Regions from separate parts of the Homo sapiens genome. Here region 2 is linked to region 1. The links come from fine-mapping of genetic effects on gene expression. Tissue or cell type: monocytes. Region 1 holds a variant in brackets; the other region holds the start of a gene. All regions are shown on one strand. Distances are from middle to middle.

Region 1 (8,113 bases):
TCTATTTTTTAAATGAAGATATTGGGATATTTATTGGAGCAAGGCCAAGGTCATTCAGTGAGTAAGTAATGCAGCTAAAATATCAAAGTTAAATTATTATTAAAAAGCCAGCTCTTCTCAACTTATTTTGGGGCAGCACTTGCCAAATTCTGCTCTAAAGAACAGAGTATTTGTTCCAAATACTTAACATTTTTTAAACTAAATATTCTGAGTTTGTTTGTACACATGTTTAACTTTGGCTAACAGAAGAATGAATCTATGGTGTAAATATTTAATATAATATTCTTTTCAAGTAATGTGCCTTTTGTTTGTGTTAACCTTGAAATAATAACAAGTTATATAAAACACTGGAACTTTGATTGACTACAACCTCAGTGTTAGTAAACAATTAAAATTGCCCCAAATGTGATCTTGGTACATGTTCTAGTCAGTAATATACTGTCCAGAAAAAGATAGCTTTACCTGAAATATTTCATTCAGTTTGATCTACACATTTTCAGAGCAATGTCAGTAAGTTGAAACTCTTTCCAAGAATAACCACCAAAATATTTACTAATTTATAGACCATTATCTATGAGTAATAATTGAATGACTTAGGAAGAGAATGACAACTATAATTAAACATTTAAAACAGTAAGCATACGTGGAAGGATTCTCTGTGCAGCCTTGAAAAAATAGAACTTGTACAATTGGAGCAAGTTAGAGGGATTATGTAATAAGCAGGGTCCATGTAATGAAGACATTTTAACAATTAGAACTGTTATAAATGGAATGAGACTGCTCGTGAGATATTAAAAAATATTAAAGGATGATTTATATAAATTGGTCTAAAGGGGATCATGAATGGGTACATATATTTATTCATGCTGTCATTTACCATCAAATGTAAAACAGCTGCAGGTGTTGGGGATGCAAAATTGAATAAGAACACATAATTTAGATTGGATAAGATGATTTCCATGAGCACACCATTAGATATTTGGAGTTCAATTTGGCTAAGTGTTTGGCATGGATTTGCATTACTTTTACACACGGAAGCAAAAGAACTACATATTGCCAGATGATATAGTGTTTCTCTTCTCTCTTGTTTTAAAGCTTCCATCAGATTCTTGTAAGTACCTCACTTGGCACAAGGTAGACATGACGTTCAAGGAAGTCAACTGCGTTGCCCAAGAGTAAGAGAAGGTAAAAGAATAAATGTGTGCCTTTTTCGTGTACATCCTCTGAATAGAATTTTTTGTGGATTAAAAGACATTACTTGAAGAAAAAAAAAAGACACCATTTGGAGGTAAAATTTTCCTTTTTCAAGACCATAGAATTGTTGATAAGTGAAGCCACCTTTGAAGGTATATTCTTATAACTGATTATATAAATAACTAACATTCAGTAATAAATATTGGAAAATATTGAAAGATAAAGAAGAACCTGTAACTGACTGTCCAGATTAACCACCGTGACTTTTATTTCCATTTACTTCTTACACACACATACATATATGTAATTTTTATTTCTTAAGTTTTTTCACTTAACAGAATGATATTGTCAGCATTTCTTCCATGCCATTAAACATTACCCAAAACATACTTTTTAAAGCTTGCATACTTTTCCATCATATTAATATCATTAAATATATTAAATATATGTAACCAATAATCGTTGTTGGAAATTTATTTACTATTTTTTATGATAACAAATAACACTGTCATTTCAACTGATGACTTTACATTGACTTAATTCTATATTGTTTTTTTCCAACAACATCAAAATAGAATCTAAATGTGTTCATCAGTGTTCTCCAGAGAAATGGAACCAATAAAATACACCTCTCTCTCTCTCAACATATACATCTCTCTATATATATAAATCTATACATCGAGAGAGATATATATATATCTAAAGAGATAGATGATAGATAGATAGAGAGATGAGACTTATTATAGGAATCACATGATTATAGAGACTGAGAAGTCCTACAATATGCCGTCTGTAAGCTGGAGAAACAGGGAGGCCAGTGGTAAAATTTGGTCTGTGTCTGAAGATCTGAAAATCAGGAGAGATGATAGTGTCACTCCATCAGGGTTATCAGGGGCCTCAATGGGTTGCATGATGCCTGCCCACATTGGTGAGGGCAAATCATTGCTCAGCCTGCTGATTCAAATGCTCATCTCTTCCAGAAATGCCCTCACAGGCTGTGATGGATAATTTTAGGTGTTAAATTGATTGCATTTAAGAATAACTAGATAAACTGGTAAAGCATTATTTCTGGGAAAGTCTGTAAGGGCATTTCTGGAAGAGATTGGCATTTGAATCAGTGGATTGAGTAAGGAAGATCTGCCTCACCCAGTGTGGGTGGGCACTATCTAAGTGGTTGAGGACCTAGGGGGAACAAAAATGCAGAGAAACAATGAATTTGCTTTCTCTTTTGGAGGTGGGACACTAATCTTCTCCTGCCCTTGGACATAAGAATTCGAAGATCTCTGGCTTTTGGACTCTAGGACTTATATCAGCAGGCCGCCAGATTCTCAGGTGTTCTCAGGTCTTCATCCTCAGACTGAGTGACACCATCAGCTCTCCCGGTTCTTAGACCTTCAGACTCAGACTGAGTTACACCACTGGCTTCATGGGTTCTCCAGCTTGCAGATAGCATATGGTGGGACATCTCAGCCTCTATCATTATGTGAGCCAATTCCCATAATGACCCCCCTTTTATCTATCTATCTATCTATCTATCTATCTATCTATCTATCTATCTATCTATCTCATATTGGTTCTGTTTCTCAGGAGAACCCTGACTAATACACAGACATATCCAGGAGTAATGTTTCACCTGTTGTCTGGGTATCCCTTAATTCAGTCAAGTTGATATCTAAAATTAACCATCACACTAAATAAACCAGGTAGTCTCATTTAACATTTTCACACAGCACTTTAAATTTGCTGGAATAACTATGTTTTGCTATTATTATTTTATTCTATCAGGTTTTACAAGGGTAATAGTATAACAATCTGAATAACCGCCATCTGCAGTCCTTGATATACATAATGTTTGATTTCAATAAGCAACTTTCAATAGATTATAAATTCTGTAAGAACAGAGGCCATGCATTTCTCATGTCTTTTTTTGCATCCACAAAAGCCAATGAAATAATATTAGACATAATTCCTGCTTCAGTGAGTGTTTAGTCTCCAGGAAACATCAAATCTTCGCTATCTTCCATCTATATTAGCAGATTTGCAGTAATATTGTATATTGCACAATTTTACTGTTGATTTAGGAAAAGTGGCTTTAGGTCTATTCATCTGCTCATTTTCCCTCTCAGTGGATCCCCACATGATGCTTGTCTTCTTTCACTCAAACTCAGTTGGCAAAAGAAGGGGAACTAAAATAGCGTAATTTTCTTATACTTTGAGTAAAATATGTTCTTATGCTTCAACTTTGTCAGCTCTATTTGCAGCCAAGCACTGACTCCTATTTTTAAAATGTGAGTAGATAGTACTACTAGGGATAAATCAGAGTTGTCCTTTCGGGACCTTGGGAAGATTTTTTTTTTTTTCCCAAGAGTGAGAAATTGTGAAGAATTAGGAAGGAAGGACACCAAGAGAAGTGGTGGCTGAGTGTGTCACATGTGTCAGGAGTCCTCCAGCAAAAGGAAGAGAGAGCTACGTCACAGGCTAAAGCAGGAAGGATTTTAGTCCTTAAGCTTTAGTGTGTGAACAAATCATCTTGAGGTGTGTGAAAAGTCAGATTCCTGGGCCCTACGCCCACTGAATCTGATGTAAGGGATGGCGCCCAGAATCCAGATTTGTAAAAAATTATCACAGGGAATTCTGTTGTAGATGATTTGAAGGCCATACTATGAGAAACACTGGTTTAAGAGGTATGAAGAAAGGGAGAGAAGAAAGAAATTTGAATAGGAAGTGAATAGACTGATAAGTAAAAATGCTGGCATGAGTGTGTGAGTGCAGAGGCAGATGGTTGATAATTGTGGCAGCCATCATAAGGCAAAAAGAAATCGTATTCTGAGCACAAGTGCTGGGTCAGGGTTTAGAGAGAACTACAGAAACTAGAGATGACAAGGAAATAAAATGTGAGGGTAAACTGAAAATGAGCTTGTGCAGAGAATGTCCAAAGTTCTCCTTCTCTCCCTGACTTAAGTGGCCAGGTTATGTGCTGAGGTCATCACTCAGCAAAACCAATCCAATGTAATGACCATGGTGGCCATTCATGCAGAGGACATCATTGCTCTGCAGAGATAAAAGCACATTTTCCTTCTGTAGGTCATTAACAACACCCAATCTCTTGTAAGTGACTAGTCATAAAAGGACCAGAGCGTGATCTAGGGGATGGAAAACATTTGAAAAAATCCCATCTCCTCAAACCAGGGAGAAATAGATGTCCCTCCTTCATTGCTCTTAATTTTGTTTAAGTTTGTTTTGTGACGTGGAGAACAAATGCTTTTCAAAAGCACTTTGAGAAGAATTACCCTCCTTCTAGATTAGATCTGGAAACACCCATCAAAGCTACTTCGGTTTATCTCAATTGCCTCAATTGTACATTCAGAAAGAGCTCATAAGACAGGAAAGGTTATCTGGTGTGTGATAAACAGCAATTGCCTAAGGCTTC[A/G]ATTGCCAGATCAAGACTGACTTAAATTTTCACAATTAAATAAAGCAAAAAAGTAAACTGGTGGCAGAATTCTTTTAAAGAATAGATTCTTTCCATTCAAAAATATCCCGGGAAGTTAGTTCAGTGACTGCTATTATGTGTTACAAATCCAGTGAGGGGACAAAGAACAGGCTGAGAGGGAGCAAGTGAAAGTCAACATCCCTGAACTGTCAGATATTCCAGACTGTAGTTCAGCTGCTAAGATATATCTTCAATTACCAACCAAGTCTGAGAAAAAAAAGAAAAATCCAATTTAATTCAACTCCTCACAGTGGAAGTGAACTTCGGCCCCCAACTTCAAAGAAAGCTTTGAAAGCTACTTTAAAAAGAAATAATTAAAAGAGCAGAAGATCAATAACACTCAAACAAACAATACAGGGAAGAGTTTAATAACTCTGGGTTATCTGATGTACAGAGAAAGCTGCCAAATTTGAAGTGGGGGTGGGTGAAAGACAATACAGCCTGAGGGTCTCCCTGCTCAATTAGGTGATTGCTCCAGTTTTCCACTTCTATGATTTTTAAATCCAAGCATCCTTATCAATGAAGAAGAACATTTCGTAACATAAGGATATTTTATTTGTAAGTCGGTTGAGATACTGCCTCATTCTGGGTCAAAGGATTTCCTGGGTGATAACAGCAGAGTTCATTATGAGAGAAATGACTGAAAGGGAAGTCTACACCCTGGCCTCCACCTGCCCCCGGTGTAAGAACTGATGTTCGTGCCGAAATAATAAAATACTGGACTCCCTCTTATTGCCTTCCATAAACTCTTCACAAATGAACTTACTACTTTCTATCATAGTCCACAAAAGCCCACAGGCCACAAAAGCAAAGTTTGTCTTTTGATGTCCTCAGTGTCCTTTTTCCTTTATTCTTTTACCTTTGAAATGAGGGGAGTCACGCATTCCAGAAACACAGAGTGGAGAAAGTGCATGCAAATGATACCAGATGTGACTCATAGAAATACACCATGATAGAGCTGGTAGGGAATTGAAGTAATTTAGTGTAGGGTTGCTTTCAGGGGCCTGGTTGACATAATATCAGAGTGAAGTTGACATAATATCAGAGGGAAGCACGAGAGAGTGTAGGGGCCTATGGCAATAAAAAAAGCCTATATTGTCCTTAAAGTACTAGAAATCAGTATTTTTGTAAAGCACCATACATGCCAAACAAACATGTTTTCTCACCAAATTCAGTTCGTGGTCAGCCCTTGATTTAGGTCTTCCCCCTATTTTTGCAGACATGAAAAACTGAAGATCAGGATATTAAAATTAGTCATCTGGAGTCCCACATTTACCTACCAGCCAACTTCAGACTGCAAACAGGACATTCTTTCCCTAACCCTGAAAGTTGTGTGCAAACCTTATTTGAAGGATGATAATGTTGGAAAATAGTGAGAAATGAGTTCAGAAATGGAAGTTGAGTTAAGATTATGGAAAGCCTTATCTGACAAGCTAGGATTTGTAGGCAAGAAGAAATTTCCGACATGTTTTCAGTAGTGAGTCCTGGGGTAAAAGCTGTGTTTTAGGAAGGTTGTATGGTAACGTTTGTTGTTTATATTGGAGGAGAGAATGTTGCAGGCAAGAAGATTCAAGAGAAAATAATTACAGTTTAAGTAGGAAGACATGAGAACCTGGACATTGAAAATGAAGGGACAGATTCTCAAAGGGAAAACTGCTAGGATAAGGTGACTAACTGAATTGAGACACAAAAGAGAAAGAAAATCAGGAATGACTTCACAATCCCCAAAGAGAAAATTATATGAAGATTAAATCACTATACTAGTGATTGTTCTCACTTGACTGGGCTAGAAATATTTATGTATGGTTAAAAGTTAATTCTAGGCCAGTAGTGGTGGCTCAAGCCTGTAATCCCAGCACTTTGGGAGGCTGAGGTGGGTGGATCATCTGAGGTCAGGAGTTTAAGACCAGCCTGGCCAACACGGTGAAACCCCATCTCTACTAAAAATACAAAAATCAGCCGGGCGTGGTGGCACATGCCTGTAATCCCAGCTACTCAGGAGGCTGAGGCAGAAGAATCGCTTGAACCCAGTAGGTGGAGGTTGCAGTGAGCTGAGATGGTGCCACTGCACTCCAGCCTAGGCAACAGAGCAAAACTCCATCTAAAAAAAAAAAAAAAAAAAGTTAATTCTACTTGTTGGCTTTTTTTCTACCATTAATAGAAGTAACTCCCTTCTCCTTTTAATAGTTCTAGAAAGCAATTAAATTATCTGTGAACCTTGAAATATATGCCCAGAATTTAAGGTATAAAAAATAGAGATATTTTATATTTTAACTGTCACATTTTCATAGTGATGTGCTAAATCTGAATTAAAAATAAATCTATGAGTGAAATTTTAAGCTAAAGGTCATCTGCAGTAACTTAGACCATGGATAGTATAAAAAAGGACAATTTAGGCCTGGCGCGGTGGTTCACGCCTGTAATCCCAGCACTTTGGGAGGCCGAGGCAGGTGGATCACGAGGTCAGGAGATCGAGACCATCCTGGCTAACACAGTGAAATCCCATCTCTACTGAAAATACAAAAAATTAGCCAGGCGTGGTGGCGGGCGCCTGTAGTCCCAGCTACTCAGGAGGCTGAGACAGGAGAATGGCGTAAACCCAGGGGGCGGAGCTTGCAGTGAACCAAGATAGCGCCACTACACTCCAACCTGGGAGACAGAGCAAGACTCCGTCTCAAAAAAAAAAAAAAAAAAAAGAACAATTTAAATAACCTAATAACCTTATAACCTATATTATAGCCTTAATATAGTTTAAAAAAAAACTTTCCTTTGCTTTTTAAGCAAAGAAGATGAAAAAGAAATAAAGTTGCTGATTTGTTTCATATTTCCCCTTTTTTGTATTACTCATCTTGTTTTGAGAGGGCTCGGTAGTAAGCCCCTCACACACAGCCACAGGCTCCTATAGCAGAAGGATAGTGAGAAAACTGAGTGGTTTAGATATTTAATAGTCATATTTTGATTAATTTATTATTGTCATAACTGTGAATCTGATTTAGTGTTGTCAAATAAGAGGTTTAGCTCAATTTTCCTTAGAAGAAATGAGAGGAAAGTTAGTTGGCAAAATTAAAAAAAAAATGATTTTCAACTATTAGAAAATGAAAAATGTGGTGAAGTCCTGGATCTTTTCCTGTCTTCAACCTTTCCCCCAACCAGGTTAGGAAGACAGGAGTGGGTTAAATCATTTTATTACTGCTCATACTATGTGGGTCAAATCATGCTTCCCCAAGTTGTGATATCTAGTGGGAGTTTCAAACAACTGGCCAATAGCAAGTGAAGATACCAGTCCTGCCCCCTAAACATACTTCCAAAATCTCAACTTGTGGTTCTTATCTAGGAATCTCTGAAGAAGAGCAACTTTTCAGACAGGTAGAGTGTGCCTTGCTCCCAAGGAAAAGAGTTCTTGAAAAAAACAAATGGGAAACATGGCTA
Region 2 (8,113 bases), 190 kb after region 1:
AATCCAAGCCAGGTCAAGCAATCCCACCTAACTAAACAAGTATTAAGACTGGAGAGCCTGATGTCCTAAAAGCCCATCTATGCAGGTGGTACACAGTGCTGTTGAGTAAAATGTCATTTGTCTTGGAAAAGGGAAGCAAAAGTTGCATACCACCAGAAAATGTACATTAAATGGCTTACACATGGGAAATCCAAAATAAATGCTACTGAAGTCAAAAGTGAATCCACAAAAAACAAAAACAAACAAAAAAATACTTTAGCCTGCTTGTGAAATAATTATTCATGCACAATTATACTGCAAGTTTTGTAGCACCATAATTAGAGAGGAAATGACAAAAGAATAAATTAAGAAAGGGACTTTGAAGCCACTTATTCAAATTAGGTAGAACATTTCCATCTGCTGCAAAACAAAAGTTGTATATTTTAATGATCCTGTATTACCATTTACCACCTCTCTTCCCCACTACCACCACCACCACTAAAAAAAGAAAAGGCAAATTAGAAAAGAAATTTCTAAAATTTCAAAATGAAATACTGCAAATAAAGGCCATTATTCAGAAATTAGGGCCTCAGTCAACAATATCCATCGTCCATCATAGGCCGTTGAGGCAAAGGAGCTACTTGAACAAAATATTTTCTTGTTTTATTTGGCTTTCAAAAAGCAAAGACACAGAAGCAAAGTCTCAGAAAGACAAAAGTGCCTGGGATGAACTTACTCGCCACAGTTCAGAATAATTTTTGTTTGTTGTTTGAATAAACATGCATTGATTCCCCTAATGAGTGTCAGGCACAGTGTGGTGCTGAGGAGGTAATGGTGAAAATGACAGCCTTTGCCCTCATGGGACTCCTAAGAGACCAAGGCACACACAACCTCATATAATCCACCATACATGCCCCTTCCAGCCATGTTTATGAAAATCTAGTCCTGTTATACTATTAGACGGTAAATTTTTCCCTTGGTCTGACTCCATGGAACTTCACAGGGAAGCAACTGATACCTTGTAAATAAATAAGTAAACAAATATCCATATTCTCATACCAACAATAACTCATGGGTAAATTTCAATGAGTTTAAAGAAAATTTTGTGAACCTAAGAGCGTATCAAAACGGGTTTTACTTTTGAACCAAGCCGAGCCATATATTTTCATTGCCTGTGGCTATGCAGCGTCAGTAAGCTAAAAATACTTTTCTTTCTTCTAAGTTGGGAAGAGCAAGTTAAGTCCAAACAATCGGATGTGTATCATTTTCTCTCATCTTAAATTTTTTACTAGAAAACACTCAAAATAACTGAAGCAAAGAAGAGGCATCTGTTTCATATCTGCACACACATACACAGAAACATCCCTCTAGCTTGCATCTATCTACCTAGCAATATTAAACAAGCTATATTTGCATCATCAGCAAAGTCTGCCAACATTTCACCACTTACAGCTATTTATTATTATTTTTTGGTTGGGGAGAAAGCTGCATAAGTATTGAAAACTAACCACAAGTAAAAGCTTGCAAAAAAAATATGTATAGGATACGTCCTTAACAAGAGGACATGGTGCTGACTTTGAATTTACGTTAAAAGTAAATTCAAATTCAAATTCTGAATTTACATTTAAAGTAAATTATGTTTGTGAAAATTACATTAAATTAGATTCTAAAATAGGATAGAAACTTTAAGTTCTTCTACAGGTCTTGCTCAAGTTGGGTTTGCTGTGCATGGCAAAGTGAAAACCTGTGTTTCTCCTCTTTGGCTTCCCGAAGCTAACTGTAACATACATGCATCTCTGTGATGAAGTAAAAGCTACTTAGGAAGACAAGTAAACCTGTTTTTAAAGAAATAAACTACTGCAGGATGGTGAATGGTATGTAGTGTGGACTTTTCCCACACATCCAGCATCTCTAAAGACATCCTATTAAATTAAAAGAATAAGAAATAAGAAACTAGCAGGTCCAGATCTAGGTTCCTTCCATTCGACTGGGCCATGACTTTAATTAAGCTGCTGGGTCATGGCTTAATTTTCCCTTGAAAAACAGCACAGTTTGAGAAATCTCTGCCAAACTCTTCATTTTTTAAGCAACTGACAAAGTCAACAAGAAAGCAAATACCTAGAATCCACGGAACAATGCTCCTCAGAGCAGGGCTGGCAGAAGCGGCGGAGGGCTACCAGTTTCCCTGCCCCGATTGCAGCTGGGCCTTTGACAAGAGCTCGGGTAAAGGACTATCTGTGCACCCGCCCACCAAACGCCCAGCGGGACGATGGGCTGGTGCTACGAAGTTCTAAACCTAACCGCTGGGAGGAAGAAGCGGGAGGATGAGAATGTCATCTCCCCTGACACTCTGGTGCCGGCAGTCCTGAAACGCTCACCTCTGACGTCCCTGAAGGTCAGAGGTGGCAACCACAGTGCCAATAGCTCACCAAAGCCACTTTTCCTGCCCGGGTGGAGGCGCGGGGCAAAGTTGGCCACCGGCTGCGCGCGTCCCGTTAGCCGTACCTTGTAACTGGGCGGAGAGGGACTCCTGGTGCTGCTGGTACTTGAGCGCCACCGCCTCGGCTTTCCGCAGCTGCGTCTGCAGCTCGTAGTAGAGCATCGCGCCGTAGAGAAAGCCGAACACGACGGTCAGCAGCAGCAGCGTCTGGAAAATCCGCTTCTGCTTTCGGGAGCACATCCCGTTTCCCATAGTCCCGCCTGGACCCAAAGCCGCGGCCGCCCCCGCCGTCTCCTCCCCTTGGTCCGAGCGAGCGTCTCAGCAGCGGCCGCCGCAGTAGGTGGCCAGACGCAGCATGAGGAGGAGATGCCAGACACAAAAGCCGGCCCGGAGGGGAAGTGGCGCCCGCTCAGCCCCCGCGCGGCGCGGGGCGCGCAGCCATCGACGCCGCCCGGGCAGCTGCAGCCAAACTTCTGCGAGGCTCGTTCTCCGCGAATGCCCGGGGCCGGGAGGAGGCCCTCCGCATACTTCAGAGCCGGCTGCCCTCGCGCCTGTCCCCAGATGCCTCCTGCCTTTTTTCCTTCTTCCCACTTTTTGGCCCCGCTGCCCCCGGGCAGTTCTTGGAGTCCCGCCCTGGCCACTCCCCGCCCTATCGCGGCGGCTCCCACTGCACGACTTTGTTGCCACCTAAGGGAGGGGGTGCGCGCCCAACAAAGGGACCAGGACTCCGGGCCGCGCCCCCGTGCGGCCTGCCCAATGGGTGGAAGGGTGGGGGCCAGCTGTCTCGGCTGGTTTTGGGGACGGCACAGCGGTGTCACTGACGGGTCGGCTGGTGCCTCTGCCGCCCCGCCACCTCCTGCCCAACTTACGTGTCACCCACGGCCCGGCTATTCTGGCCAACGGGATTCCGGGAGGAAGTCCCACTCGGCCTCCTTGCTCATTGGGCCCGTCCGAGCAGACGCTCCCTCCCTTCGGGGAGGCAGTGCCGGGCTCGATTGGATGCCGGCTTTGTCCGTCCGACCCCAGGGCCGCACCTTCCCTCCCAGTGCCGGGGCCGGCTAGGGGCTCTGTGGGCAGCGCGGCCGCCTGGCGCCGGGGTGCGCCCACGTGGAGTCGGAGAGGGTGGGAAGAGGCAGGCGGAAGGGCGAAGGGCGGGGAGCTTTGGGTGGGCGGGGGACTTGTCCGGGCCTGAGTCTGGGTGAGGTTCGGTGAACACGTGTGTGTGTGTGTGTGTGTGTGTGTGTGTGTTCCAGTTCTCGTTCGGAACGCACGTGGAGAGCGGAGTAAAATGTGTGTATGAACGAAAGAATGGATGGCAGTAACTGTGTGCACTCTGCTGAGTACACTTTCTTTCCCTGTCCAATAAACTGATGCGGCAGACACATGGGATAGCTACATAGCACAATCCCGGTAGTCAAACCAGAGATGCCATGTCGACTGCCTTACCCCATCCAGTGTACTAGCCTAGATGTGTGTGTGCCCACAGATGGCCCGGCAGGAGTCGGGAGACTGGAAGCACGCTAGACTTAATGTTCAATTGTCCACGTGGGCTGGGGAAATCGGCTTGCCATTGGCAGAGAGGAAAGAAATGGTCTCACATTTCTCCTCTAGCTGCAAATAGAATAATTTAAAAACAAATCGTACAGACTGAAATGAGTATCCATTCATTTTGTCATATGTATTTGTTTTATTGGTGGCAAAACACATCAGTTACATTTCTAAATTACATTTTAAAGGGCAACAAAGGTTCCCTATGTAAAAACTAGTACAGCACAGGAAAGGTAGTAACCACAAACCTCTTCGAAGAAATGTATACTGCATTTATTTTTTCTGTGTACTTGAGGGGAATAATTAAGGTTATGCACAAATGATAATTTTTGTTTCTGCTGTTGACCTGAATTCTAAGAAAAGTAAATTTTATCTGTCTGTATAGTGTGGTGTAATTTATGATACACTGCATAATTTTTATATTCTAACTGGACTTTAGTCGTTACCATTGCTAATGGGCCTGAGTGCTCAAAATGGGGGTAAATCTCTTTAGCTAAATGCAACAGAAAGACAGTTCCTGGTGCAAAAGTTTTTTTAGGTGGACTCTGAAATTATAGGTTGCTAAAGCCCTAAAATAAACTGAATTTATAACGATGCTACCCTGTGGCATTTATACCACTGTAAAAATAAAGTGTGTCTTGCATGTGCTTTTCCTTAATAAATAATAACTTGCGTTAAATTATTCAAAATGCTTTCGTGTGCAGATACACTGTCTCACTGATCACAGCCAGGGTGTTAGACTTTCATGTTGGTAAAGAAGCCAAAGTTTATCAAAGTGACTATGACAGCTCTAGGACCTTTTAGGTCTTGCATAAAGTTAGTTACTCAGCAAGATTAGAATCCAGATCCAAACCCTGCTCTATGTCTTTTTCTTCAATAGAAACAATGTTCTCATTCTATTAAACAAGTTACAGTAAGAAATTATATCTCCATTAACATGAGAATCTGATTGTAAAAGAAAACAGTCTAAAGGAGTTTGGGAGTTTTGTTGTGTAAATACTACATAATCTTCCTTATTATTAAATCTACCACTTTAAATTCCTCTTTTTTAGTTTGACTCTCAGAAATTAACATTGGATAATTACTGGAATCTCTTTAAAATTCCTCATAACTAAACATTCCTTACTGTTGTCAGAGTACTTTGTTAAACAAACTCTTCCTCCAAAAACACTATCCAAATTTAGGCTGGGCATGGTGGCTCACTCCTGTAATCCCAGCACTTCTGGGAGGTTAATGCGAACAGATCGCTTAAGTTTGGGAGTATGAGACCAGCCTGGGCAACATAGCAAAACCCCTCCTCTACAAAAAAAAAAATATATAAAAATTTAGCTGGGCATGGTGGCGTGCACCTATAGTCCCAGCTACTCGGGAAACTGAGTTGGGAGGATCCCTTGAGCCTGGTAGGTAGAGGTTGCAGTGAGCCAAGATCACACCACTGCACTCCAGCCTGGGCGACAGAGGTGAGACTCTGTCTCAAAATAAATAAATATATAAATAAATAAAGTTTATGGCAATAATCTTGCCCCATATTTGAAGAGAAAATTATCCTAGCCACAAAAGAAAAAGAAGTTGTATAGAGGGTTGGAAAATTATTGCTCATATATTGTACAATATGTATTTTAGAATCTTTGGAAAATTCTTATGTTTCCTGAATGTATGATTCATCTTAAACCTCTGATTCCTTTGCATCTGATTCCAGACTCCAAAGATATTCTTTGCCTAAAGCTGCTGGCTGACTCTACAGAACATAATAAATGCAGGCCATAAAACACAACTCAATATTTTAGTCATAAAATTTGAAAGACAGCAAAAATTATTACCTGAACTTATCCATTATTTCAAATTCAAGAAGGGTATGTAGAAGTACATAAAATTACTAATGGTGGTATTTTTATAATATTACATTTCCAAGGTAAAGTATGCTGCTAGTTTCCTGAAAATGTCAGTATAGAGCTTTTGAGCGGCCAACATGAGGAAGCTATCCAAGGCCTATAAAATGAATTTACATAACATTGCCTTTGGGTAGCAATTATAACATAACAGCTGTTTATACTGGTCTTGGAAGGTGTGTTGTTCATTCTATTTTATTTTTGCTTCTTTGTTATTTTAAAAATAGTATATATAATTATATTTCTATATTCCATATATTTAACAATATATTTAACTTTAAATTATAAACCCTGAAGAATTTTACTGATTTAGTATTTTATTTCTGAGGCAGGAAGAAATTAACTTAAAGATACTCAAGGTCTTACATTTGAGAAGGGCAAATATAACATTTGGGAATATTAATTCTCTCTAACTTAAGTGAATTTGTCATTTTAATCAAATTTGTTCATTTTCAAAATAAGGGAAGGAAAAAATAAAAAGTTGAGAGAGACAGCTGACGTATAATTTCTAAAAGTAAGATTTTAAATTAATAATATTTAGGATCCTAGAGTAAATAATTTCTATTATCTAAATCTTTTATTTAAATTTCTTTACTACAAATGGAACTCAATATTTTGTAATTTGTAGGAGAAATCATCACCTAAGAAAAGGTGATGAATAGTAAATAAAATTTAAAATAGCTTTTCAGTATTAATAAACTAATTTTAATCTTTTCATCTGACAATTACAAAAGTTATTTATCCTATAAAACAATCTTCACTCTATGATGTCTTCACCTTTTTGCCATTTCATCAGTTTGCTGTCCCCTAATGAATACACTTGCCTTGCTGATTGCCACTTTTACCTGACCTGTTTTGAGAGGTAAAGAAAGCTGCATTCAAGGTATTATGTCTTTTTGAACATTTTGTGAAAGATGTTTTGAGACTCCTTTTTCATAGGATTTTGATAATGACCTAGTAGTAATTGTTAGAAGATTAACAAACTAAAAAGTAGGTCTGTGGTTGAATGCATAACTGAGTAACTGAACCCCACTCAATGTATCTTTATGCCTTGTTTACATCTGTCACTACGTTGCCACCTTTGTAATTTTCAACTATATCTGAAGAGGAGGGCAGAGGAGAAAGTAGATGATTTGTTCTTATTTATAAAAATGCTTTTCAATGAGAGAAACCTTACCATCAATATCACTAAGAAATACCTTCTGAGGCCGGGTGCGGTGGCTCACGCCTGTAATCCCAGCACTTTGGGAGGCTGAGGCAGGCGGATCACGAGGTCATGAGATCGAGACCATCCTGGCCAACATGGTGAAACCCTGTCTCTACTAAAAATACAAAAATTAGCTGGGCATGGTGGCGTGTGCCTGTAGTCCCAGCTGCTCGGGAGGCTGAGGCAGGAGAATCGCTTGAACCTGGGAGGCGGAGGTTGCAGTGAGCTGAGATTGCGCCATTGCACTCCAGCCTGGCAACAGAGCGAGACTCCATCTCAAAAAAAAAATAAATAAAATAAAATAAAAATAAATAAATACCTTTTGAATACAGACTACTAATAATGGACGTGATTTAGAAGTCCCTATTTGCCACAGGATGTGTAGCTAGTCTAAAGGAAGAGGAACTATCATTTCAAACCTCTAACAACATTCTAAAGCAGGATATCTAGCCAACCCTAAACTTTTCCAAATTCTAAGGCAGTATACGAAATCATTATGAATATGTTGCTTAATGTTTGTTACAGCTAGCATATAATGAGCTAACTACCACATTTTTTTTTCAGTTTAATTTCATAGGAAGTTAGAAAGAATGGAAAGGGAGCATATGTGAGCCTCAGAAGTGAACTTCCTAAATCTTCCAATGGCTCATCCAGCTTCTCACCAACTCACTGCCTTTAATAGTCAAAGACTTTAGATAAGCAGAGATACCACAGAAAAGATCAGTGGCCAGTAAAACATGACATTTTTTAATGTCCCCTCCCCCAAAATATTATAATTTATTGGATTGATTTTTATGAAAGCTATACTTAGTTTACTCATGACCATTTTATAAAATTGGCATTACAATTTTAATATGTTATAACATATAGTAATTTTTTAATTGTGATGAGGGTGGCTGGTCATATTTATAAAGTATCCAATGCCAAGTTCTGGGTCAGAAATTCAACGTTTAATTTTAGAATTATTCCTAAGGGAAATAATAATCTGCTTCATAAATGCTATTTAAACTATAGTTTTCAGGAATATTTTGAGTCAGAACAAAATGACTA

The links. PIP is the estimated chance that this variant, and not a neighbour inherited with it, causes the effect.
Region 2: it holds the start of GOLIM4, and the variant in region 1 is fine-mapped to the expression of GOLIM4 in monocytes (Fairfax 2014, PIP 0.95). The same link has a PIP of 0.9 or more in B cells.

Annotation. Positions count from the first base shown.
Region 1 is chr3:167,904,768-167,912,880 of GRCh38, forward strand. It overlaps the pseudogene LRRC77P. Among named protein-coding and RNA genes, the nearest start is that of SERPINI1, 170 kb to the left of the region's middle. The variant A/G (reference allele first, on the strand shown) is at 4,625.
Region 2 is chr3:168,092,615-168,100,727 of GRCh38, forward strand. GOLIM4 (golgi integral membrane protein 4) reads right to left here and starts at 3,310. Exons shown (of 16, transcript NM_014498.5): 1 at 2,485-3,310. The coding sequence starts at 2,671. RefSeq lists silencers at 3,086-3,135, 3,426-3,665 and enhancers at 3,337-3,838, 4,036-4,085.